Homo sapiens: one gene and its partners. The protein of the gene in region 1 interacts with the protein of each later gene in a pairwise test. Each region holds a gene or a part of one and is shown in the gene's direction. Other genes may lie near its edges.

Evidence for each region.
Region 2: the proteins of UBE2U (region 1) and RNF14 interact in a two-hybrid assay, tested with the Homo sapiens proteins (one large-scale study listed by BioGRID and IntAct).
Region 3: the proteins of UBE2U (region 1) and TRIM35 interact in a two-hybrid assay, tested with the Homo sapiens proteins (one large-scale study listed by BioGRID and IntAct).
Region 4: the proteins of UBE2U (region 1) and RNF170 interact in a two-hybrid assay, tested with the Homo sapiens proteins (one large-scale study listed by BioGRID and IntAct).
Region 5: the proteins of UBE2U (region 1) and DZIP3 interact in a two-hybrid assay, tested with the Homo sapiens proteins (one large-scale study listed by BioGRID and IntAct).
Region 6: the proteins of UBE2U (region 1) and RNF10 interact in a two-hybrid assay, tested with the Homo sapiens proteins (one large-scale study listed by BioGRID and IntAct).
Region 7: the proteins of UBE2U (region 1) and RNFT1 interact in a two-hybrid assay, tested with the Homo sapiens proteins (one large-scale study listed by BioGRID and IntAct).

What each region holds. Positions count from the first base shown.
Region 1 is NC_000001.11:64,213,623-64,217,122, forward strand, and holds part of UBE2U (ubiquitin-conjugating enzyme E2 U), read left to right. Parts: intron 1-1,192; coding exon 1,193-1,310; intron 1,311-1,814; exon of another isoform or gene 1,815-1,903; intron 1,904-3,500. UniProt on the Homo sapiens protein: Catalyzes the covalent attachment of ubiquitin to other proteins.
Region 2 is NC_000005.10:141,967,931-141,971,904, forward strand, and holds the start of RNF14 (E3 ubiquitin-protein ligase RNF14), read left to right. Parts: upstream 1-1,174; 5' UTR 1,175-1,237; exon of another isoform or gene 1,238-1,850; intron 1,851-2,773; 5' UTR 2,774-2,947; intron 2,948-3,974. UniProt on the Homo sapiens protein: E3 ubiquitin-protein ligase that plays a key role in the RNF14-RNF25 translation quality control pathway, a pathway that takes place when a ribosome has stalled during translation, and which promotes ubiquitination and degradation of translation factors on stalled ribosomes.
Region 3 is NC_000008.11:27,290,773-27,294,272, reverse strand, and holds part of TRIM35 (E3 ubiquitin-protein ligase TRIM35), read left to right. Parts: coding exon 1-193; intron 194-3,500. UniProt on the Homo sapiens protein: E3 ubiquitin-protein ligase that participates in multiple biological processes including cell death, glucose metabolism, and in particular, the innate immune response.
Region 4 is NC_000008.11:42,862,106-42,865,605, reverse strand, and holds part of RNF170 (E3 ubiquitin-protein ligase RNF170), read left to right. Parts: intron 1-116; coding exon 117-190; intron 191-912; coding exon of another isoform or gene 913-955; exon of another isoform or gene 956-993; intron 994-3,500. UniProt on the Homo sapiens protein: E3 ubiquitin-protein ligase that plays an essential role in stimulus-induced inositol 1,4,5-trisphosphate receptor type 1 (ITPR1) ubiquitination and degradation via the endoplasmic reticulum-associated degradation (ERAD) pathway.
Region 5 is NC_000003.12:108,641,722-108,645,221, forward strand, and holds part of DZIP3 (E3 ubiquitin-protein ligase DZIP3), read left to right. Parts: intron 1-716; coding exon 717-793; intron 794-2,442; coding exon 2,443-3,060; intron 3,061-3,500. UniProt on the Homo sapiens protein: E3 Ubiquitin ligase proteins mediate ubiquitination and subsequent proteasomal degradation of target proteins.
Region 6 is NC_000012.12:120,558,356-120,561,855, forward strand, and holds part of RNF10 (E3 ubiquitin-protein ligase RNF10), read left to right. Parts: intron 1-2,370; coding exon 2,371-2,531; intron 2,532-3,500. UniProt on the Homo sapiens protein: E3 ubiquitin-protein ligase that catalyzes monoubiquitination of 40S ribosomal proteins RPS2/us5 and RPS3/us3 in response to ribosome stalling.
Region 7 is NC_000017.11:59,951,740-59,954,740, reverse strand, and holds the end of RNFT1 (E3 ubiquitin-protein ligase RNFT1), read left to right. Parts: intron 1-594; coding exon 595-696; intron 697-1,629; coding exon 1,630-1,764; 3' UTR 1,765-2,501; downstream 2,502-3,001. UniProt on the Homo sapiens protein: E3 ubiquitin-protein ligase that acts in the endoplasmic reticulum (ER)-associated degradation (ERAD) pathway, which targets misfolded proteins that accumulate in the endoplasmic reticulum (ER) for ubiquitination and subsequent proteasome-mediated degradation.

The sequences.
Region 1 (3,500 bases):
GGAGCATACCAAAGACAATGCTGACATTTGGTAGATATTAAATAAAATGAATGAATGAATGAACCTGAATTTTTACATTATTGCTATTATGGTATGTATATTGCCATGTGCTTAGCAACAAGGATACATTCTGAGAAATGAGTTGTTACACATTTCATCGTTGTTTGAAAATCATGGAGCGTACTTACACAAACCAAGATGGTATAGCTTAATACATACGAAGGCTATGTTATAGCCTGTTGCTCCTAGGCTACAAACCTATACAACATGTTACTGTACTAAACACTATAGGCCATTGTAACACAATGGTAAATATTTGTGTATCTAAATATAGAAAAAGTACAGTAAAAATTTGGTATTATTATCTTATGGGACCACCATGATATATGCCGTCTGTTGTTGAGTGAAACATTGTTATGTGGCACGTGAGTATGTAAACTATACAGCCTGTTTCTTTTTCACTTAACATTGTCTCTCAAGTAACTTCCATATGGTTATAATCAATATTTTAATAGCTATTCAGTATTCCTTTGAAGGTCAGTGCTGCGCAGTAGCACTTTCTGCATTGATGGAAATGTCCAATATATCTCACCGTTCAATACAGTACCTACTAGTCATATGTGGCTACTGAGCACTTGAAATGTTACCACTGTGACTAGGGAGCTGAATTTTTAATTTTATTTAATTTTAATTATTTTAAATGTAAATAACCACCTGTGACTGTGCCTACAGTGATGGGCAATACAAGTTGAGACCATAATGACTAACTACTTCTTTCTTGATAACAAATTAGATACATTTTCAATTATCACACTGTTATTCAAGGGAAGTGTACTTGAAATGTTGGTTAAAATATTTTGAATTTTAAATACACTAACCACCATCAACTAAAATTTTTATAATCTTAATTTAAATTCAATGTAAATGTATATGCTAGGAAGGAACAAGTTACAGAAAGGAACTTGTAACTTGCTTTTTGATCTATCACAGTTTTATACCGTACATTCATGAGCCTAAGGTTAGGTTTCTTGAGAGTACAGACTATGTCTCATGTTATTTTTTAATCTATTTCCAGATCCATACATAGTAAGCATTTAATACATGCTTATTGAAAGTTGTATATATTGGTTTGTCGTTTTGCTCTAAAAAAAGTTTACTTCTGAAATTATATGTTGTCTGTGTTTTCCTATAGGTTATGCTTTCTAATCCAGTGCTAGAGAATCCAGTGAATTTGGAAGCAGCCAGAATACTGGTTAAAGATGAATCTCTGTACAGAACAATTCTAAGACTTTTCAACAGGCCATTACAAAGTAAGAAGTATCTACTTTTGTTAGGTGCAGTGGCTCACGCCTGTAATCCCAACACTTTGGGAGGCTCAGGTGGGTGGATCATCTGAGGTCCGGAGTTCGAGACCAGCCTGACCAACATGGAGAAACCCTGTCTCTACTAAAATACAGAATTAGCTGGGCGTAGTGGCACATGCCAGTAATCCCACCTACTCGGGAGCCTGAGGCAGGAGAATCACTTGAACCTGGGAGGCAGAAGTTGCGGTGAGCCGAGATCATGCCATTGCACTCTAGCCCGGGCAACGAGAGTGAAACTCTGTCTCAAAAAAAAAAAGAAGTACCTACTTTTTGTTATTTGGCAATTATCAATTATACTTTAAACATTTATAGCATAGTGATCTAGGAAATAACTGTTATATAAGGGAATATTTGAAATATTTTCTGTATCCATTTTCAGTAATGAATGGTATTAAGATCTCTCCTACTGTAACTCTTTGTGAAACCAATCAGTGTGATCCTTTTTTAAAGATCATCAAAGATCTCAAGCTCCGTATCTTTAAATATTATGGTCATATGCATGGATGGTGCCAAATGAAACTAGTCCACCCATCATAAAGGTATGACATCTAATTTTGACTCTTCAATCTGTAATGGACATTTCCCAGACTTCACCTGCAGTACTCCAGATCTTACTGATTTGTACCACTTTTCTTCTTGATTAGCAAGATGTCAATGATTTTTTTCCGGAGAGTTCCCTCCCCAGGAATTCCTTCTAAGAATCCATGTGGAAATAGAGCCTGAAGCTCTTCAGTCTTTCTGCTCCACTGAGCAGTGTTTTCCTGATACCCTTGGTATCCTGCCAGCAGCCTCGTTATGACTCCTAACTCCATTGCCTCCATTGCCCCTGTGCGCTCTCTCTCTCTTTCTCTCCAGGTAGTAGAGCACTGCTTCTGGCTTCTTGTGCACAGAAGGGTTTCCCACAGCTGAGAGCTGGGCTCCTACTGACATAGTTATTTCCTTTATATCCTGCCCCACCTTCTTCTGGTAGCACACAGCAACCTTGCATAGTAGCTGGTATCATTACCTTCCCAATCAACAGGCCTTGATTTCTTATAGTACTTTTTCTCTCAGATTTACATTGCTTCTTTTTCTGTTTCCCTTCCAGGACTCCCAGTCCATTAGCTAGGTCTGTATAATTGTGACCAAGTTCAATTGCTCCTCCTCCACAGGGTTTTTGGGTCTGATACAAATCAAATGGTGTTGATCAAGCATCTTTTCCAGTACCATAGAACTTTATTCTACGACAAAGTTCTTGGGGGAGCTATTTGATCACAAGCTTAAGGTGAAGCAGTAATAGAAAATTCCCTTCTTCTAAGTATGTGTTATATACTCATTTTACCCTTCTCTGGCTTGGTGGGCTTTCATCTGGAATACCAGTAGGCTCCACTTGGAACCTCACATTTCTAAAGGCTGAAGAAACTGTATATATTTAGCCAACAGAAGAAAAGATAAAGGGCAGTTGTAAAAGCTGTTTTCAAATATTCGAAGGGATTTCCTATGGAAAAAGATTTCTTCTGGGTTGCTTCAGAAAACTAACATAGGACAAACACTGAAGTTACACGTCAGTCATACTTTCCCGGGCCTGCTGGGTTGTAGCAGAACTGAAGTTCACATACGCAGGCTTGGCCCTGCCTCGTGTCAGTACATACCTTAAATGTATCAGGGACTTTACTCCGTGATCAGTTGTCTGGAATTAATTTTATTGTCCTAAGTCTAAGCCTGGTATGTGATATGCAGACATGTAAATGTCGCTCATTACCCAAACTTTTCCCCAACATTTGTTATGTTTGCCTACCCTGAATAGCTAGGTCTTTGCCTCAGTGTATTGACAAGAAGACCAAGCTCTAAGCTCAAACCCAGTGTGGAGGTCTGATGACCTTCCCATTTCCTGACAGCCTCCTTTCCTTGTGGCCTGGCCCCTTTTCCTTTCTTAGAGGACTCACATACCCCAGACTGCCTGGGAAAGTCCTGGTATAATTATTCCCAGTACCTCCTTTCACTTGCAGTGTACCAGTTTGAACAAACGATTATCTAGCCAGTTGGGTGCCCAGCTGATCTTTCCTAAAAGCAAATGACTCTATAGTTGTGCCATTCTTAATGGTAAAGTCCATCCAGGTCCCAGTTGGCCAAACATGAGGAAGAATTGTTTGAAAT
Region 2 (3,974 bases), on another chromosome or scaffold:
TCTAATTCCACAATATTTTCATCACCCAAGAAACACCATATCTATTAGCGGTATCTATTAGCAGTCACTTCCCATTCCCTCCTGCCTTAGTTTCTGGCAACCACTAAACTACTTTTTGTCTCTATGGATTTGCCTATTCTGGACATTTCATATAAATTAAAAACAATATATGGCTTTTTGTGTTTGACTTTTTTTTTTTTTTTTTTGAGACGGAGTCTCGCTGTTACCTAGGCTGGAGTGCAGTGACTCACTGTAACCTCTGTCTCCTGGGTTCAAATGATTCTCCTGCCTCAGCCTCCCTAGTAGCTGGGACTACAGGTGCCCGCCACCATGCCCGGCTTATTTTTTGTATTTTTAGTAGAGACGGGGTTTCACCATGTTGGTCAGGCTGGTCTCGATCTCCTGACCTCGTGATCCACCCGCCTCGGCTTCCCAAAGTGCTAGGATTACAGGCGTGAGCCACCGCACCCGGCCTTCTAAGGGTTTTATAGTTTTAGTTCTTACATTTAGGTCGTTGATCCATATTTAGTTAATTTTTGCATATGGTGTGAGGAAGGAAGTGTATAATTTTAATTCCTGCTTAGCCTGACGATAATCATGTGACCCTTGGTAAGTTCTTGCACCTAAGTCTCAATTTCCTTATTTGTAAAGTGAGAATAACAAATGGTAGCTAAATCATAAGATTACAGTGAAGATAGAAAATTTACGTAGAGCATTTATCACACTGCTTGAAGCATCCTAACTACTCGATAAATGCGGTCGGTGTTACAGTTATAACATGAGCGATGAATGCGTGCTTCCACAGTGGAGTGCCAGAAAGACCGGCAGCATTTCTGAGAAGGTAAACGGGAGGAAGTAGGCTTGCTTAGTCCACTTGGAGAAGCAGGTCTGGGATTGTTGTGAGAGTCTCTGCCCTAGGTAGACCACTGCCTCATGATCCCCTCTAGAGATTGGTAAAAATTCGAATTCTCGGGCCCCATCAGAACTACTGAAAAGAGCCTCCTGTGAGCACAGGGCTCGCAGTAAGTGGGGGTGACGGTGGTCGCGCCGGCAGCGCCGCCTTGGGCCTGCGGGAGGCGCCCGAGAGGCAGGGGCGACCACGGCGGCTGCGCAGAGTCCTCCCTATGCCGGCGGTCGCGCCAGCGGGATCCGCCTGGCTCAGCTGACAGCTCCCGAGAACGGAAGAGGCGGCGCGCCGGTTGAGCAGGGCGTCTCTAGGCCTGGTCGGCTGGCGGCGGTGAGTGGGCCCCAGGCAAGGGCGGAGGGCGGAACTTTGGGGTTCGGCACTGCCGGGCGGCCGGAAGGTACGGTGGGGATAGCTCTCTGGGCGCGCGAGGCAGAGAAGGGGACCGGGCTGGGACTGTACACTGGGCCTCAGTCCCTCAAATCCGGGACCGGGCGTCCGCAGCTCGGCTGGCCGGGACTCCCTTCGGGACGCTGAGGAGGAAGGGGAAGGTGTGGGCCCTGCTCCTTCGGGACGCCCCAGGCTGGCCAGCAGCTCACACATCCGCATTGCGCCCTCTGATCCCAGCGTTGGGGCGGATAGCTAGCGTTGGGCCTGCCCCTGTTTTGGGGCAGTCGCCCAAACGACGCCGCACGCCTAGTGGCGAGCTGAACCCAGACTAGGACACCCGAAGACCAAATGGATAGAGTGAGAAGGAAATGGGGGTTAGCAACCTGAATTGAGGTACTGGATTCCAAGTGACAGCTTCACAAGCTGAAATCTTGTAGGGTAGGTCATGAGGAACTGTTGAAACTGCTTGGAGTAGAAGTTCTTAGCCCTGGCTGCATATTGGAATCACCTGGAGAACTTGGAAAACTACTGAGGCCTGAATTAATTGTTCTAGGGTGTGGCCTGGGTATTGAGATTTTAAAAAACAGCTCCTCAGAAGATTCTAATGTGCAGTCAGATGGAGAACACTAACCTAAAACCATAAACTGCATGAATGAATCTCTCATCCCATTTGCAAATGTTTTAACAGGAAGAAACAAAAAGCTTAATTCAATTAGCACCATATACTCCCACCTAGTAAAATAAGACAATGTGAAAGGACCTAATACAGTACATAGTAGGTGCTCAATTAATGTAAATTGATTCTGAATCTCATTCTTATCTCATTTGGGAGTTACACATCCGAGAATCTGGTTTTTAATTATGGTTTTGTATATAGTATTTTTGCATATAATTTTAGGGTGTTGATAGGATTCTCCGTAGCCCATCTATAGACCACACTCCCTTTTCCCCTCACCCCAGTGAAGAAGCCTAGCTCTAAAGCATTTAGAATAAAACTTAAAAGTTTGTGTTTGTGTACTCTTGTTTTGTTTAAGTATTTTTCTGTTACCAAAATTAACCTTGAGTGCCACTGGCAGGCTTAATTCATGAACAAGAGAGGAAAAACTGGAGGGGAGTGGCAAATGAAGGAATACAAGAAGCAGAAGAGGAAAGGAGAAAAAAACAAAACAAAAAACAAACTGAAGAGATTGTTTGTTATGGGGCATGGTGTCCTGTACTTTCATATGACCTTGGTGTTCCTCCTTAGCTCCTCCCATAGCTGAGGGCAGACAGATAAAAAGTCCTCAGTCATTGCTGGGGACATGCAAATACTCCTTTAACCACATGGCTCAGTTAGCCTGCCCTAGGAGAGTAACATGCACTTGTAGATTAGGATTGGCTATATGTTAGGATATGTTTGACTTAAGCAGTGATCATGGAAATTCAGAATTTTAATTTGGAGAGGGTCCTAACACCATCTTTTGTATTTCTTTTCTGCAGATGGCAGGATTTTCATAATATATGTAGTATGAGTTCCACATCTTGGCCTCTTACCCAGCTTCAGCAGTCTCAGCTCCACCAGTTAGAGAATAAATGGGATTTGCATGAACTCCACTCTGAGCTGAAATACAGACTGCGGTGTTAATATCCTTTTCTTCTGATTGTTATTAACAGGTACTAACTGACCTCAAGTAGAACATGTAATTGTGTCTTAGATAGGGATGCAGCTTAAGCAGAGCCATGAACTAACATCTCCTAGAAAAAAAGTGTTTTTTGAAAATGAAATCATTTTTAATTTCATAGTATGACCTTTTAAAATGTAAAAAATCCTAACTTTTTACTTATGTACATTTTAATTAAAAATATTTTAGTTGTGAGGGAGGATATTTGCAAATGCAATTGTAGTTCAATATTTTAATTGACTGGTAGTTTTGTTTTATTAAAATGATTTTTGTAAATTCTCATTGCATATTTTTTTCACATTTAAATTATCTGAAATTGCTGTATCTTTCAGTTGATGCTATTTTAAAAAACATTGATTCATACTTTATTTTTTGAGACAAGGTCTTGCTCTGTCCCCCAGGCTGGAGTGCAGTGGTGCAAACACGGCTCACTGCAGCCTCAGCATCCAAGGCTCAAGCGATCCTCCTGCCACAGTCTCCTGAGTAGCTGGGACTACAGGCACACACCACCACACCTGGCTAATTTTTTATAGAGACAGGATCTTGCTATGTTGCCAAGGCTGATCTCAAACTGCTGGCCTCAAGTGATCCTCCTGCCTTGGCCTCCCAAAGTGCTGGGATTACGGGCATGAGCCACCATATCCAGCCAGTTCATACTTTAATTGTAGCTAATTTCTTTTTCTTTCTTTCTTTCTTTCTTTCTTTCTTTCTTTCTTTCTTTCTTTCCTTTCTTTCTTCTTTCTTTCTTTCCTTTTTTTTTTTTTTTTTTTTTTGGAGACAGAGTCTGTCTCTGTCACCCAGGCTGGAATGCAGTGGTGCAATCTCAGCTCACTGCAACCTCTGCCTCCTGGATTCTAGTGATTCTCTAGTCTCGTGCCTCAGCCACCGAGTAGCTGGGATTACATGCGTGTACCACAATGCCCGGCTAATTTTTTTATTTTTAGTAGAGATGGGGTTTTGCTGTGTTGGCCAGGCTAGTCTTGAACTCTTGGCCTCAAGTGATCTGCCTGCCTTGGTCT
Region 3 (3,500 bases), on another chromosome or scaffold:
GTTTGATAAGCTTCGCGAGTTCTTGAGAGTGGAGGAGCAGGCCATTCTGGATGCCATGGCCGAGGAGACAAGGCAGAAGCAACTTCTGGCCGACGAGAAGATGAAGCAGCTCACAGAGGAGACGGAGGTGCTGGCACATGAGATCGAGCGGCTGCAGATGGAGATGAAGGAGGACGACGTTTCTTTTCTCATGGTAAGGAGCTCAGCGTCTGGATTCAGTGACAGGGCCACATGTTCCAGGACCAGCTGGGAGCCATAGCCCACCAGCCCTGGCCAACGTCATCTTCCTGGAGCTTCCTGGGTACTGGCCTGGAGGAGCTCACAAGTAACCTGCTCTGCTTGTGTCATGAAACTAAAAAGACTTATCAGGGCGGAGTTCCTTGAAACCCTGTTATTTCTTCCTCGCTCTTCTTTTTTTTAGAGACAGGGTCTTGCTGTATCACCCAGGCTGGAGTACAGTGGGTGATTATAGCTCAGTGTAACCTCAAACTCATGGGCTCAAGTGATCCTCTCTCCTTAGCCTCCTGAGTAGCTGGGACTACAGGCACGAGCCACCATGCCCAACTAATTTTTTTCATTTTTTACCAGTCAGGTAGGGGTGAGGGGGGTCTCACTATGTTGCCCAAGCTGGTCTTGAATCCCTGGCCTCAAGTGATGCTTCCACCTTGGCCTCCCAGGTAGTTGGACTACTGGCGCACCACTGTGCCCAGCTCCTGTCTCTTCTTTCTTCCTTTCTCTTGCCCTCTCTCTTACTCTCATTTTTTTTCCGGTCTCTACCTTTTAATAAGATGAATTCTTTTAAAATCATTCAATTATTTAAATTTTTTATTTAAATATAATGCCTTGGCTTTCTGTCTTCTTAAGAAAAGGATGATTCCATTCTCTCTTTAAAAAAACAGTATTATTCATTTTTTTTTCCTTTTATTGATTTATTTCCTCCCCATGAGCCAGTGGTCCTTACAAATTTCCTACAGGGAAATTTCTGGGCTCGAAAGCTGGTCTGTAAACTGGCCAGGGTGGTGAGGTGTCTCTTGTACCTGGAAAACAGCTGACTGCTGTGGAAGGGGTGTCGCTGTAGAGTGGAGTGGGAGGCGACAGGGACAGTTATCTGTTCAGGCAGTGTCATCTCCTGGGTGGGTCCTTTAGGAGTTCTCCACCTCACTCAAAGCCTGGAACCATGAAGTCTCCTGTCTCAAAAATGTCCCTGATTATGAAATCATTCTGTGTTCAGAGCTGTCTCTAAAAAGAAAAATGAAGAAAAAAAAAAAAGAAAAAGAAAAATCATTTTGTGGGATCTAAAAGCTGTGTGTCTCGAGGATTCTGTTTAGGGAATTGGGAGTATTGTCTGCCCAGTACTCAGAGTGCTTTCAGGGATGATTTTGGTTTGTGACTCTTTTTTATTTTTTATTAACAACTTTATTGAGATATAATTTACATGCTAAACAATTCACCCATTTAAAATGTACCACTCAGTGATTTTTAGTATATACAGAGTTGTGCAACCATCACGACAATTTTAGAACATTTCATGCCTCCAAAAGCAGCCCTGCTTTAGCTGTCACTCCCCAGTTCCTCCTCCCACATAAAAACTGCTACCGAAATTGAGTCTAACAGAGTGGTAATTACTAGAATTAGCAGCCCCTGGCAACCACTAGTCTACATACTATCTATATGGATTTACCTGTTGTAGACATTTCAAATGCATGGAATTATATAACATGTAACCTTTTGTGACTGCCTTCTTTCAGTCAGCATATTTTGAAACATCATTCATGTTGTAGCATCTATCAGTACTTCATTCTTTTTTATGGCTGAATAATATTCCATGGCATAGATATATAATCATGCACTTCTTAGTGATGGGGATATGTTCTGAGAAATGTATTATTAGGCAGTTTCTTCATTATGCAAGTGTCATGGAGTGTGCTTACAGAAGCCTACATGGTGTAGCCTACTGCACACCTAGATTATATGGAATAGCCTTTTGCTCCTAGGCTACAAACCTGTACAGCACGTTGCTGCACTGAATACTGTAGGCAACTGGAGCCCACTGTTAAGTATTTGTATATCTAAACATAGAAAAAGTACAGTAAAAAACAGTGATATAATCTCATGGGACCATACCATAGTCATATATGTGGTTCCTTGTTGACTGAAACATCGTTACGTTGCACATGGCTATATTATATTTTATTGATTGATTTATCAATTGGTGGTTGCTGTGGTTTAAATATGTTCCCCAAAATTTATGTGTTACAAACTTAATCCCCAATGCAACAGTGTTGGGTGGTGGAGCCTAATAAGAAGTGATTGGGTCATGAGAGCCCTCATGAATGGGTTAATGTTGTTACTGGCAGAGTGGGTTAGTTATTGAGAGAGTGGGCTTGTTATAAAAGTGAGTTTGGGCCCCTCTTGCTCTCTTGCTCTTGGTCTTATGTGTAGTCTCTTGCCCTTCTTCCTTCTGCCATGGGATGACACAGCATGAGGGCTCTCATCAGATGCTGGTGCCATGCTCTTGGACTTTCCAGCTTCAGAACCACGAGTGAAATAAACTATTGTTTATAAATTACCCAGTCTGTGGTATTTTGTTACAGCAACACAAAATGAACTAAGACAGTGGTCATTTGGGTTGTTTCTATTTTGGCTATTATGAATAATATGACTATAAACATTCAGGTAGCAATTTTTATGTGGACATGTTTTCATTTTTCTTGGAAATATGTCTGGGAGTAGATTTGCTGGATCAAATGGTAACTCTAGGTTTAACTATTGGAAGAACTGCTAGGCCATTATTCAGAGCAACTGTATCATTTTATATTCCCATCAGGAGTGTATGTGGATTCCAGTTTCTCCATATTTTTGCCAAAATTTGTTTTTTAAAAATTATAACCATCCTTGTAGGTGTGAAGTGGTATCTCCTTGTGTATTGCATGTCATCACATCCCTGATGGCTAATGACTTGGAACATCTTTTCATGGGCTTTTTGATCATTAGTAGATCTTCCTTGGACAAATGTCTATTCACATCCTTTGCCCATTTTTAATGTGGGTTGTCTTTTTATTGTTGAGTTGTAAGAGTTCTTTATATAGTCTAGATACAAGTTTTTTATCGGTTTTAGCTCTTCATGTAGGTCTTTGATGCATTTTGAGTTTTTTTTTTGTATATGGTATAGTAAGGGTTAGTCCAACTTCACTTTTTTTTTTTTTTTTTTTTTGCATGTCAACATACAGTTTTCCCAGTACCATTTGTTGGAAAGACTATTCCTCCATTAAATCATCTTGGCACTATTGTAAATAATTGATTGATGGTAAATATGAGGGTTTATTTCTGGACTTTCAATTCTATTCCATTGATCTCAGTGCCTGTTTTTATATTAGTACCATACTATCTTGATTACTGTTGATTTGTAGTAAGTCTTGAAATTGGAGATTATGAGTCTTCCAATGTTCTTCTTTTTCAAGATGGTTTTGGCTATTCTGGGTTCCTTGAAATTTTGTGTG
Region 4 (3,500 bases), on another chromosome or scaffold:
TTTTAAATAACGTGGTACTGTTAAAATATTTCAAATAGTTGAATCTTTCTGAGGATATGTGGACTTTAAAACATCAATATTAATGGGTTATGTGTTTGTTTTGTTTTGTCTATTAGGTGCCTGCATTATTGCTTACTGGCGATATGGTTCATGGCTTGGGGCAATCAGTTGTCCAATCTGTAGACAAACGGTAATGTTTTGTGTGCAGAAAGTATCATTTATGCTAGTTTATTTTGTACATTTTTATAGTTTTTGTATCTACATTTGGAATTATTATTGTCTTTTTAGCAGAACTTCATTTATCCAAATCTTCTTTGATGTCACCATATATTATTATTATTATTTTTATTTTTTTTTATTTTTTTTGAAAAAAGGTCTTGCAGTGCAGTGGCATGATCGTAGCTTCCTGCAGCCTCGACCTCCTGGGCCCAAGCAATCCTTCCACCTTAGCCTCCTGAGTAGCTGGGACTATAGGCATGTGCCACCATGCCTGGCTAATTTTTTTATTTTTAGTAAAGATGAGGTCTCCCTGCATTGCCCAGGCTGGTCTGAAACTCCTGAACGCAAGCAATCCTCCTGCCTCAGCCTCCAAAGGTGCTGGGATTACAGGCATGAGATACCACGCCCAGCCCACGATTTTTTTTTTTTTTAAACTGTACCCGGCCCACGATTATTTTTTTAAAACTGTCACTGAGATACCACTACAAAAGGGAATCCTATTTGAAATCCTACAGTTGTAGTGAAAGACAATCAGGCTTGAGCATATATCCTCTATATATGCATATATACTTGTTTTGAAAAAAAATTTTTTTCCTTCTCAATGTATATTTAATCTGTCTTTTTCCAGTGAGGACCCAGATAGCTTTAAATGGTATATAATGATTTTTTTTTTTAATGTTTCATTCCTTTTAGAGACATGGCCACATTGCATTGTCCAGAACAGCTTAGACCATGACAGTTAGCATCGAAGCCACCTGAGGAGGGAGGCAGTAAGTAAGCATGAACGTGAGACTGAAATGTCACTGCAGATGAGACATGCCAAATTCTCTCCATTTCTTTGATAAACTGGAGAAATGAAATACTGAACAATTCTGAGAAACCAATATTCTCAGTTTTTAAGTATGACAAAATAGGACATTGTGTCAGTTGTACACTGTTTTTCATAATTTCCTTTATATTTATTTTTCATTTAAAATAAAAATACAGGGTGGGCGCAGTAGCTCATGCCTGTAATCCCAGCACTTTGGGAGGCCAAGGCAGGAGGATCACTTGAAGCTGGGAGTTCGATACCAGCTTGGGCAACAAAATGAGATTCCATCTCTACAAAAAAATTTAAAAAATGAAATTAGCCAGGTGTGGTGGTGTATACCTGTAGTCCCAGCTACTTGGGAGGCTGAGGTGGGGGGATTGCTTGAGCTCAGGAGGTTGAGGCTGCAATGAGCTATGATCATGGGACTGCACTCCAGCTTGGGCAATAGAACGAGATTACATCACTAAAAAAAAAAGTATTCCTCCACTTACCCATGGGTGGAATGTTCACACACACTAAAAAAAAAAAAAGTATTCCTCCACTTACCCGTGGGTGGAATGTTCACACACACACACACACACACACACACACACACTCTCTCTCTCTCTCTCCTTCAGCCTTTATTGTAGCTGTCTGTTTCCCCTCAACTGCCCTCTTATTTTGGTGCAAAGAGGGAGGTCCAAGTCATTTTCTTACCATTCTTGCTTATACATTCCCAAATTCTGCCTCTTTCATATTTTACTTGTGGCCACATGGTCAGGAGGAAAACTGATGTTTCTATATGCCTCTCTGGCTGATTTGATGCGTGACACAAGGCAGTCAACATTGAAGCTTATGGCCGGGCGTGATGGCTCACGCCTGTAATCCTAGCACTTTGGGAGGCTGAGGCGGGCAGATCACAAGGTCAAGAGATCAAGACCATCTTGGCCAACATGGTGAAACCCAGTCTGTACTAAATATACAAAAATTAGCTGCGCATGGTGGCGCACACCTGTAGTCCCAGCTACTTGGGAGGCTGAGGCAGAAAAATCACTTGAACCTGGGAGGTGGAGGTTGCAGTGAGCCGAGGTGGTGTCACTGCATTCCAGCCTGGAGACAGAGCGAGACTGTCTCAAAAAAAAATTTTTTTTTTAAATTGAAGCTTATTTGCCCGTACTACTTCTTGGCATCTTTTGCTCTCGGTCAGCAACATCCAAACTAGGGAGTAGGTCTTACATTAAAAAAATAGTTCCAGGCCCTCCCTCTTCTTGGTTCTGCCCATGGCTTTTCATAGGACATGTGTACAGTAGCCAGTGGTATCCTGTGTACCATCCATAAATTGACTAGAGGCTCAGAAGGTCGAGATAAAGTTGTCTTAATATAATAGGTCTTGGTTCCCTAAGATAAGAGTAATTCATCCTGGAGGCAAGACAGATGGCAAATGCTTGTTCTACCTCCTGTTTTCAGTAGCCCCTTCAGTAAATGGTCATGGAAATAGCAATACACAGGCTGCCGCCTCTGACTGGAACACATTCACCACTTCTCCCCTTGAATGCGTGCACACCAGCCACAGTCCTACCACCATTTCCAGGTTTGGCTCAGTATCAGGCTTTCTGACCACCCCAGGCAGAAGAGATCCTCGCTCTCACAGCAGCATTCTTGCACCTGCCCCAGGACCATGTAAGGCTGTCGGCCAGGTCTTCCTCCCCTTTCCTTGTGGGTGTTGTAGTCACCCTGGAGCAGGCTTTTGACTTCATTTTTCTGGCATACCTAGCACTAAGCAGAGTGCCTGGCCCGCCATAGGTGTTCCATTAATGTGTATTGAAAGAATGCATTTTTATTAACAAATTTGTGAAGGAAGTGATGGCTGCACCTGCTGTTCTCACCACCTTCTGTGCTTAGTCACGCCTTCTTTTAGCTGTTTGGAAAGCATCTAAACAGTGGGAAGCCTTGGTTTTACAGCTGAACTGAGGAAGGACAAAACAACAACTAAATGATTTAAAACTAAATCGGCCACCACTCCTTCCCGTTTTTATGTCATCATACAATCATTAGTGACCATTTTCTATAAGGGTGCTACGTCCTAAAGTGTATTTATTTTTCAAGGTACTGTCACCGTCAGATTACCCCAGTATGGTCCTGGGACATTTGTACATCCTTGTTACCACAACCATGAAGGAAGCAGGGTTAAATGTATTATGTTATATGACAATATCAAAAATTTCTTTTTTTTATTATAGTAGGAATTGGTGTTTGAGAGCTGGTCCCTGCAATAACATAATCTTTATATTATGGTTGGTAGCATTCAAAGATCTTTCAAATACCAGTAAGAATAACCAATCATTATTTTAATACTGAAAAAGAAAACCATAATTTTTCTGTCTTAAAGTGACAGTTATATATTTTATGTCACTTTCCTCCTGAATGTTTCCTCATCCTTCTTTTATCTTCAAATATCTGTTAGCCCAAATAGAGAACTAAGGAATTTACC
Region 5 (3,500 bases), on another chromosome or scaffold:
TTTTTTCAATGTAATGTGCAACTAACAGTGTTATAGTGGTACTGGAGATAGAATCAGTTAACAATAACAACCACCACCAAAATCCCTTTCCTCATTAAGCTTACATTGTAGCGTTGTTGTCCAATATTTTTTTGTTTTGTTTTCCGTGGTTCATTTCAAAGCCAAGCCATCTGTTTAACGGCAGCATTTACCTAGTGCTTAGTCTAGTTAATACATTTTGCTACTTTATTTTTTATTTTTCTAATTATTTGTATTGATGTTCTACTAGCATCTTTATTGTTTTTAATCAGTAGGTGTTAAATGAGTTGGGGTTTCTTGGAATAGTTATTGCCAAAAATATTATATGGTGAAGAGAGGGCCAGGGAGGACTTCCAGATTTGCTATTTTTTTGTTTGCTTGCTTGCTTTTTTTGTCTTACAATGCAAAGCTTTCTTTCCTTTTTTTTCTGCTACCACACAGCCTTTTTGCAAGGAAGTTTGTAATGTGATAGTTTTAGTATGAAATCTGGCAATACTGCTTACTTGATAATTCCAATGAAAGTGACAGTGTAGGGTTTTCATTGTTGGTGAGCTCTATTTGTTCATTATTTTTTCTCCTTCTTGAATTATTTCTAGGAGAAGATGAAAATACTCACTTAGCCATGCTCATACTAGAAATCTTGACTGACTTTGGTATTATTTTATTTCCACTATAACTTAATTTTTTTCCTTTTGCAGTTATAGAAAGTTGATATCTCTGAAAATAACTGATACTGATATAAGACCGAAGATCAGTTTAAAATTTAATACAAAAGGTATTATTTTATTTTTATATGCCTTCTGTTGAAAAGTATGTTAAAATTTTTGACTTCTCTGTCAACTTTCATGCCATTAACAACCACGTCTTTACTGTGTTTGTCATTCACTGAGCTTGGGTTTATACCAGCAAGCAGCGCTTGGTGTAGGCTGGAAATCACAGACAGGAAGATCAGCACATCTATGGATCTCACATTACCTTGACATCCTATAGAGAGGCATGCTAGGTCTGGTGCATAGCTGTGACTATACCGTGGGATTGTGTTCCAGCAGAGGTTTTCTACCAACTGTTCCTTCCCTTGCTGCATTCCTTCTTAATAGAGCAAGCATTAGAGTACCCTTACATGAAAGGAATGAACATTTTGAGTTTGAGGCCAAGTTTTGAGGCTAAGTAATCTAAACTAAGCTGCCAGCTTCTTAGGAGTGTGCTAGGAAATGTCCTGCCCAGAACCTGGAGGCCTTAATTAAGGGACCCTGGGCCCATAGAAGAATAGTTTGGTGGCAGTCCAGCCAACTTTTTATTTGGTAACCCAAAGAAAGCTCCCTGTGTCATTAGCTTTTTAACTTGCCTCCACAATGTATATCAAGTATTTCAAGCAAAAACGTTAATTTAATAAATCTCTTGAAACATAGAATCTTGAAGGATAAAATAATAAGGCTGCATTTTGTGACAAACACATATTTTGATATCCATATAACACCAAATGCCATTATATACTAAATTATTAGTACTTTCTAATTCACTTCAGCCGACTTTTCTCCTTTGAAAGCACTGTTAAAACAGGAAAATACCAAATAGTTCAGTTTCATGCCTTATTCCATGTTATTGATGAAATACCTACTTATCTTTTTTTGAGGGGGTGAGAAGATGAGGTTTATTAGATCACAGTTTCTCAAGCATTATACATATATTTGAAATATCCGGCAATTTTGTTAAAAGGCAGATTTCAGTAGGTCTAGAGTGGGGCCTGAGACTGTGCTTTCCTAACAGGCTTTCAGGTGGATGCTTGATGCTGCTGGTCTCTGGGCTACCCTTTGAGTAGCAAGGAGCTAGATCTTTTGGCATTTCTTGATATAGATCTGAGCTATCTAGTATAGCAGTCCCTAGCTGTATGTGGCTACTTAAATTTAAATTAATTAAAATTAAATTTAAAATTCAGTTCCTTAGTCACCCAAACCGCATTTCCAATGCTCAGTGAGTATTAGTGCAAATATAAAACATTTTATCACATGACGTTCCATTGGGCAGTGCTGATTAGGATAAAGTATAATTGTTTAAGTAAAGTATAGTTAGACATTGACAATTAGCATTCTTGGCAAATTTCAGAATTTTTAAAGACCTAATACTGTGATGCCATGTTGTTGCTAAAGGTCATTTACTTGAACAAAACCTTGGATGACTGAAAGACTTCTGTGGTGATTAGTCTTTGTTATTACTTTTGCTTGGGAACATGTTGTTTTTGTTTAGGTTTTTTGACAGGCAGAAAGCAGCATGCTAATTGAGCACTGGCTGTGGCAAAGCACTGTACTATCCTTCATTCTTTTGGAATAGTTTTTATCCTACAGGAGCTTAGGATACAATGTGAGAGACCAAATAGAAAATGAGCATTAATGTGGAATGTCTTGACTTCTCAAAATTTATTTTCAGATGAAATGCCTATCTTCAAGCTTGATTATAATTATTTCTATCATCTGCTTCATATAATTATTATTTCTGGTACTGACATTGTTCGACAAATATTTGATGAGGCTATGCCACCTCCTCTTTTGAAAAAAGAGCTTCTTATACACAAGAATGTGCTGGAATCCTACTACAACCATCTTTGGACCAATCATCCTTTGGGTGGATCATGGCATCTGCTTTATCCTCCTAACAAGGAGTTACCGCAATCCAAACAGTTTGACTTATGCCTCCTGTTAGCTCTTATAAAACATTTAAATGTGTTCCCTGCACCCAAAAAAGGATGGAATATGGAACCGCCATCTTCTGACATCTCTAAATCTGCAGACATCCTGAGACTGTGCAAATACAGGGATATCCTCCTTAGTGAGATTTTGATGAATGGTCTCACTGAGTCACAGTTCAATTCAATTTGGAAAAAAGTTTCAGATATTCTTCTGCGCCTTGGGATGATGCAAGAGGATATTGACAAAGTGAAGGAGAATCCCATTGAGAATATCTCCCTTGATTACCATCAGCTATCTGTCTACCTAGGCATACCAGTACCAGAAATCATACAGAGGATGTTATCCTGCTATCAACAAGGTACTAAATGATTATTTACTTCAGCCAATAAACTTCCATTGATTGAATGTCTGCTCTGTGCCAGGCACAGTGCAAAGGGCAAGAGATTCAGTGAGCTCATGGTTTTGGGAAAATGGACTCATCAGGAAGGTAATAGAAATTATAGTGCTAGAGATGTTTCCAGAATACCATGGGAAATCCTAGGCTAAAGAAGTCCAAAAAAGCTTTCTGGAGAGTATCATAGTTAAAGAACTATTAATGGTGTGCAGAAGTTAGCCAGGTGAAGCAGACTGAGAAGAATGTTTCAGAGGGAAACAAAAATAAAGGTATAGAAACATAAAAATATACTGCAGGCAACTAAAAAATGTTGGCTTCATTGAGATTAAAGTAGGGGAGAGTTCATAGAGTACATTCAAGAGGATTTTTTTGTCACATTAAGGAGTCTGCATTTTTCAGAAAGA
Region 6 (3,500 bases), on another chromosome or scaffold:
TCATTTGGGTGGTAAATGTGTGTGTGTAATATTTTTTTCCTAGTGATTTTGACTGTTTAAATGTTTAGCAACTTAAAACATTAAAAATGTGTATTAATTAAAAAAAAATCCTCAGATATGGGTGGATTTTTGAACCAGGCTGAAATGATAGATGCTGTAAAAGACTGATAAATTTTATTTTTATTTTATTTATAGATATATAATATAATATGTATATATATATTTTTTTTTGAGACAGAGTCTGGCTCTGTCACCCAGGCTGGAGTGCAGTGGCATGATCTTGGCTCACTGCAACCTCTGCCTCCCGGGTTTGAGCGATTCTCGTGCCTCAGCCTCCCGAGTAGCTGGGACTACAGGCGCCCGCCACCATGCCTGGCTGATTTTTTTTGTATTTTTAGTAGAGACGGGGTTTCACCATGTTGGCAGGCTAGTCTCGAACTCCCGAGCTCAAGTGATCTGCCCGCCTTACCTCCCAAAGTGCTGGGATTACAGGCGTGAGCCACTGTGACCGGCCAAGAAAACCACTTTTAGTGTCCACAGAATTTTCGTTAATGAACATACCATCATGTCATTAACCCTTTATTTGAGATGGAATCTCACTTTGTCGCCTGGGCTGGAGTGCAGTGGCAATAATTACTTTTAATTAATTAAATTCATTAAAATAATTAAAATTAATTTAATTAATTAAATTAACTTTTAATTTTAAATTATTTTTTTTATTTTAAAAAATTAACTGGGCATGCAGGTATAGTTAATTTTTTATTTTTATTTTTAGCAGAGATGAGGTCTTGCTATGTTGATAGGCTGGTCTTGAACTACTCTTTTTTTTTTTTTTTTTTTTTTTGAGACGGAGTCTTGCTGTGTTTCCCAGGCTGGAGTGCAATGGTGTGATCTCGGCTCACTGCAACCTCCACCTCCTCGGTTCAAACGATTTTCCTTCCTCAGCTTCCTGAGTAGCTGGCATTTCAGGCACCTGCCACCACGCCCGGCTAATTTTTGTTTTTTTTGTGTGTGTGTGTTGTGCTTTTTTTGTTTTTGTTTTTGTTTTGAGATGGAGTCTCACTCTGTTGCCAGGCTGGAATGCAGTGGTGCAATCCCGGCTCACTGCAATCTCCGCCTCCCAGGTTCAAGAGATTCTCCTGCCTCAGCGTCCTGAGTAGCTGAGATTACAGGCACGCACCACCACACCTGGCTAGTTTTTGTATTTTTAGTAGAGACGGGGTTTCACCATGTTGGCCAGCATGGTCTCAATCTCTTGATCTTGTGATCCGCCTACCTCAGCCTCCCAAAGTGCTGGGATTACAGGTGTGAGCCACCGTACTCCGCCTGGTGTTATTTTTTTTTAATTTTATTTTTTGAGGCAGAGTTTTGCACTTGTTGCCCAGGCTGGAGTGCAATGGTGCGATCTTGGCTCACTGAAACCTCTGCCTCCTGGGTTCAAGCGATTTTCTTACTCCAGCCTCCCTAGTAGCTGGGATTATAGGCGCCCGTCACCACGCCCAGCTAATTTTTTGTATTTTTAATAGAAACAGGGTATCTCTATGTTGGCCAGGCTGGTTTCGAACTCCTAACTTCAGGTGATCCACCTGCCTCAGCCTCCCAAAGTGCTGAACGTGAGCCACCACACCCAGCTGGCTTGGTCTTAAACTTCTAAACTCAAGCAATCTTCCTGTCTTGGCCTCTCAAAGTACTGGGATTATAGGTGTGAGCCACTGCGCTGGTCCACCATTTCTTTATTCTTTATTGTTGGTTTTACTGGTTGGTTTGAGCTTTTCTTTTTCTGTGTGTGGTTTTTTTTGTTTTTTTTTTTTTTGAGACAGAGTTTCGCTTTTGTTGCCCAAGCTGGAATGCAGTGGCATGATCTTGGCTCACTGCGACCTCTGCCTCCTGGGTTCAAGCGATTCTCCTGCCTCAGCCTCCCAAGTAGCTGGGATTACAGGCATGCCCTACCAGGCCCGACTAACTTTTTTGTATCTTTAGTAGAGACGGGGTTTCACCATGTTGGTCAGGCTGGTCTCGAACTCTTGATCTCAAGTGATCCACCCGCCTTGACCTCCCAAAGTGCTGGGATTACAGGTGTGAGCCATGGTGCCTGGCTGGTTTGAGCTTTTCTGATATTACATACAATGCTGTAACAATAAACGCGTGACTAAAGTTTTGACTACATCTCTGGGTTTCTTAGATTTCTTATATCAAGAGCAGAGCTACAGACCTTATTTTAAGACCATTGTTAAATTATTTTCTAGGAAATCATGCTAAATTACCCCATTTTCACCCCAGAGAAAAGGCTGTATTTGAAAATTCCTATTTAGCTACACCATCGTGAGCTTTGAATGTTGCATTTCTTTGATCTTGCTGGCATTCTTATAGATGAACAGCACAGCCAGTACTCCAAGTTGCTGCTGGCCTCTAAGGAGCAGGTGCTGCACCGGGTAGTTCTGGAGGAGAAAGTAGCACTAGAGCAGCAGCTGGCAGAGGAGAAGCACACTCCCGAGTCCTGCTTTATTGAGGCAGCTATCCAGGAGCTCAAGGTGAGAGGATGCATTGGAGATGCTAAACCTTTTCACTTTCTCGGCGTTCTGTGGTGAAAACCAGAAATGCTAAACCTTTTCACTCTGTCGGGGGTGAGATGATGGACGCTGGGGATTAAGTTAGTTCCATTCCACATTTAAGACAATAAGCAGAGAATGGCTAAAAAAGCCAATTTGTTTTGGGCTTTGTTTGATGACAGTAGAGAAGGTTTAACCTAGGGCTTTTAAAGCTCTTTCTAGAGCTGAAAGGAGCAAGTCAAAATGATTTTATAACTAATTGTGACAGTGGAGTTTTTTAGATTAGCTATGTTCTTAAAGCAAGTTAGAGTTCTTTGTTTTCTGGGAAAATACTTAAGATTCTATTCTAGAGGTGTTTTGAAAGACATTGTGGAGAAAGTATTATGGCCTGCCCAGTATGCCTTAGGAGTACCTGAAACGGCAAGAATTACACAAGAACAGAATTCCCTGGGTCTTTTATCTTCCACAACAGAGATTCTTGAAGCATCACAACCACTGGTTGTTAGGTCCCACTTTGAGATATTGATTGCATAGGTTAAGCTCAGTAGGCTCAGTAATTTGCATATAACAAGTTCTAGGGTGATTCTGATGGCTGCTCATCCCCAGACCACACTCCTGGAACCACTGATCTAGCTTAGAGCAATAGAAGCCCATATTTATTGAGTGATCAGCATTTGATAGGACTTGTGCTATACACATTTATCTCACTTAAGCTTCTAGTGTGGTAGATAGAACTATCCCCTTTCATGGATGAGGAAACTGAATCCTGGGTTGGGTAATTTGCTAGTAAGGGATGCAGCTGGTATTTGAATTCCCTTCTCCCTGACTCCCAAGGGCTCCTTGGGTAGAGTCCTGTGTATTTAACTTTTGCTTTCTTTCTATAATACGTTGCAGCCGTATTTGTTCAAATGCCATTACAGGCATAAGAAAGGCTACATAGAATTAGAGCTG
Region 7 (3,001 bases), on another chromosome or scaffold:
TTAGACCTAGTGGCAGAAAATTCTTCAGTGGTCCCTAAGTCTTCTTCATATTGCACTCACTTGGAGACCTTTCAAATAATAGATTACTGGGTCACATCCCAATATGTCTGGTCCTAGTGAATTGATATTGTGTGGAACAGAGAAATCTATTTTTAAAGCAAGCTTTCCACATGAGTTACATTCAACCAGCCAACCTCTGGCTGGATTGACTTTATGAACCACTGCTGCAGGTAATAAGCTCAATTTGGCAGTCCTGGGTCAAATAATACATGGCTATAGATTTTATAATAGTTACATTTCAGATTGCTTAGTCTCTTAAGCCAGTTATGTTGAATTTGAAGCACTATCATCCTTTGTAAAGCTAGTAGATCTAACAATCTTTCAAAATCCTATTATGTATTATTTAATGATTTCATTTTGGTGCACTCAAGAGGTGGTTCTGTATATGGCTCAGCTTTGAGATGTTTGTATCCTTTGGGAAGTTTTTCAAATGCCTGGTTCCAGGGAGATTTGAGAAGTACAGCATTACTTATGTAATTTGAGGAACAGGAAAGAAAGAAATTTGTAGATGAACAGAACTTACTATCTTCATAGAGTTATGGAGTGGCTGCCAGCAAGAGACAGTGTTCAGATGTGGATGATATTTGTTCAATATGTCAAGCTGAATTTCAGAAGCCAATTCTTCTCATTTGTCAGGTAATTACATTTTTAAATTTAAAAACCTAAATACAACAGTTCTCTGTGACTTGCAAAAGTCAAATTTATGTTTGCTGTAAGGCAAAAAAAAAAAAATCTAGTGTTTAGTGGAAGGTAGCATTCAGGGTACATACTAGTGGATTGGCTAAGTTTTGTCCCTTATGTTCTGATAATTTTTATGCAGAGGAGCGTATGAAGGGGAAAAAATAATTCAACTGGCAGATTGAATACCAAAGTGATTAAAAAACAGGCTATTTTATAATTGGATACTAGCCATGTAGAACAATACTGACATTTGTTACTGGATTGTGGCCCTTTCCTATACTTTATGGCAGTTACTAGTAACTCAAAGACCTTAAGCAGTTATCATACTTAATCTTAAAGGTGTCACCTAAGGATAGCTTTTATGGTTAAATGGATGGTACAGCCAGAACACTAGTGGCTCTACCAATCATACTGCTCTTTGTCTTCTTGAATGTCTCATACGTTCTCCATTTTCACAATTGTAAAATGAGGGGATTAGTGCTCTTCAAAATCCCTTTCAGGCTGGACACAGTGGCTCACGCCTGTAATCCCAGAACTTTGGGAGGCTGAGGTGGGTGGATCACCTGAGGTCAGGAGTTCAAGACCAGCCTGACCAACATGGTGAAACCCTGTCTCTACTAAAAATAAAAAAACTAGCTGGGCATGGTGGTGGTGGTCACCTGTAATCCCGGCAACTTGGGAGGCTGAGGCAGGAGAATCACTTGAACCAGTCGGGGGCGGAGGTTGCAGTGAGCCGAGATGGTGCCATTGCACTCCGGCCTGGGTGACAGAGCAAGACTTCAGTCTCCATCTCAAAAAAAAAAAAAAAAGAATCCCTTTCATTCCCTACAATGTGATGGATTTAAAATGATTATCAAATATCAAATCTAATTCTTAATTCCATTACAGCATATATTTTGTGAAGAGTGCATGACCTTATGGTTTAACAGAGAGAAAACATGTCCACTCTGCAGAACTGTGATTTCAGACCATATAAACAAATGGAAGGATGGAGCCACTTCATCACACCTTCAAATATATTAAGTTGTATAAACTATCAAGGCCACAAAATACTAATGTCATTTGGTCATAATGACTACTGATAAGGCATCAGAATGGATTTTCAGGGCTACCAGAAAAATGTTTCCAGATGGTTTTAGAATGTAGGACTTATGATCCAATTCACCAAAAGATTAAATGAAACCACCCTGTGTTTTAAAATATATATAATGTTCAACCTAATGTATATGCAACATTTATTCTATTCTAATTATTTGACAGGTAACTGCAGTGTTAAATTGTAAATGTGTTTTCTTTATGTTACCAAAACAGCAATTTGAAATTAGAACTAGTGGTTTTAGAGAACTCAGGTATTCTTTCCTGACATTGTTTTCAGAATAAAGAATATTTTTCATAATATTTTAAGATACATACTATCTAAAAGTAGAATTTTGTTCAGCATTGACTTTTATAATTCCCATCCTAAAAATTCTTAATATTTTCATAAAATTTGTATTTTTAAATGAAAATTCTAAATGTTGTATTTTATCAGTAACATTTTCTAAGTGAAGATTAATTTACTGAGGATGATACATTATAGTATTGTATTATTCTCTGTAGTAAGATTAGTAATAAGTGAAAATAAATGATTTAAATTCATTTTGTCTCTGGACGTCATAAATTCTTCCTGCCATCAGCTTTAATGTTCATGATCATGCTTTTTGTATAGTACCATGGAGTATCTCGAAGTAACTATTAAAATAATTCATGTGGATTATAAACAGCTGGCTTACTTGATGATTTGAATAGTATAGAAAACAAGACAAATGGCCAGGCATGGTGGCTCACACCTGTAATCCCAGCACTTTGGGAGGCAGAGGCAGGAGGACTGCTTGAACCCAGGAGTTCAAGACCAGCCTGGGCAACATCCCATCTCTATTTAAAAGAAAAAAGTTTCAAGACAGATGCCCTAAAATCTTATAAAAAATTGCCCTTATAATTAGTCTTCTCCATAAAAGTTTTGGAATTTTATGCTTGAATCACCATCAATTGGAAGATTGAAGCTCGCACTGAGAGGTGGTCATGAGGTTTTGATAGTGTGGTTTGTTCGCCTCTAGGTATTTGTGCAGGGTGCTAGAAAAGAGAATGAAGCACTTTCTCCCCTTGTTACCTCTAAGGAGGAATCTGAAATCTAAAACATGTCTGAAGGGCTGCTAGTGCTTATATCCAAGTTTAGAGTACATCTATCAGTTTGTAGTCGAGGAAAAGGTGGTAGAAAGAA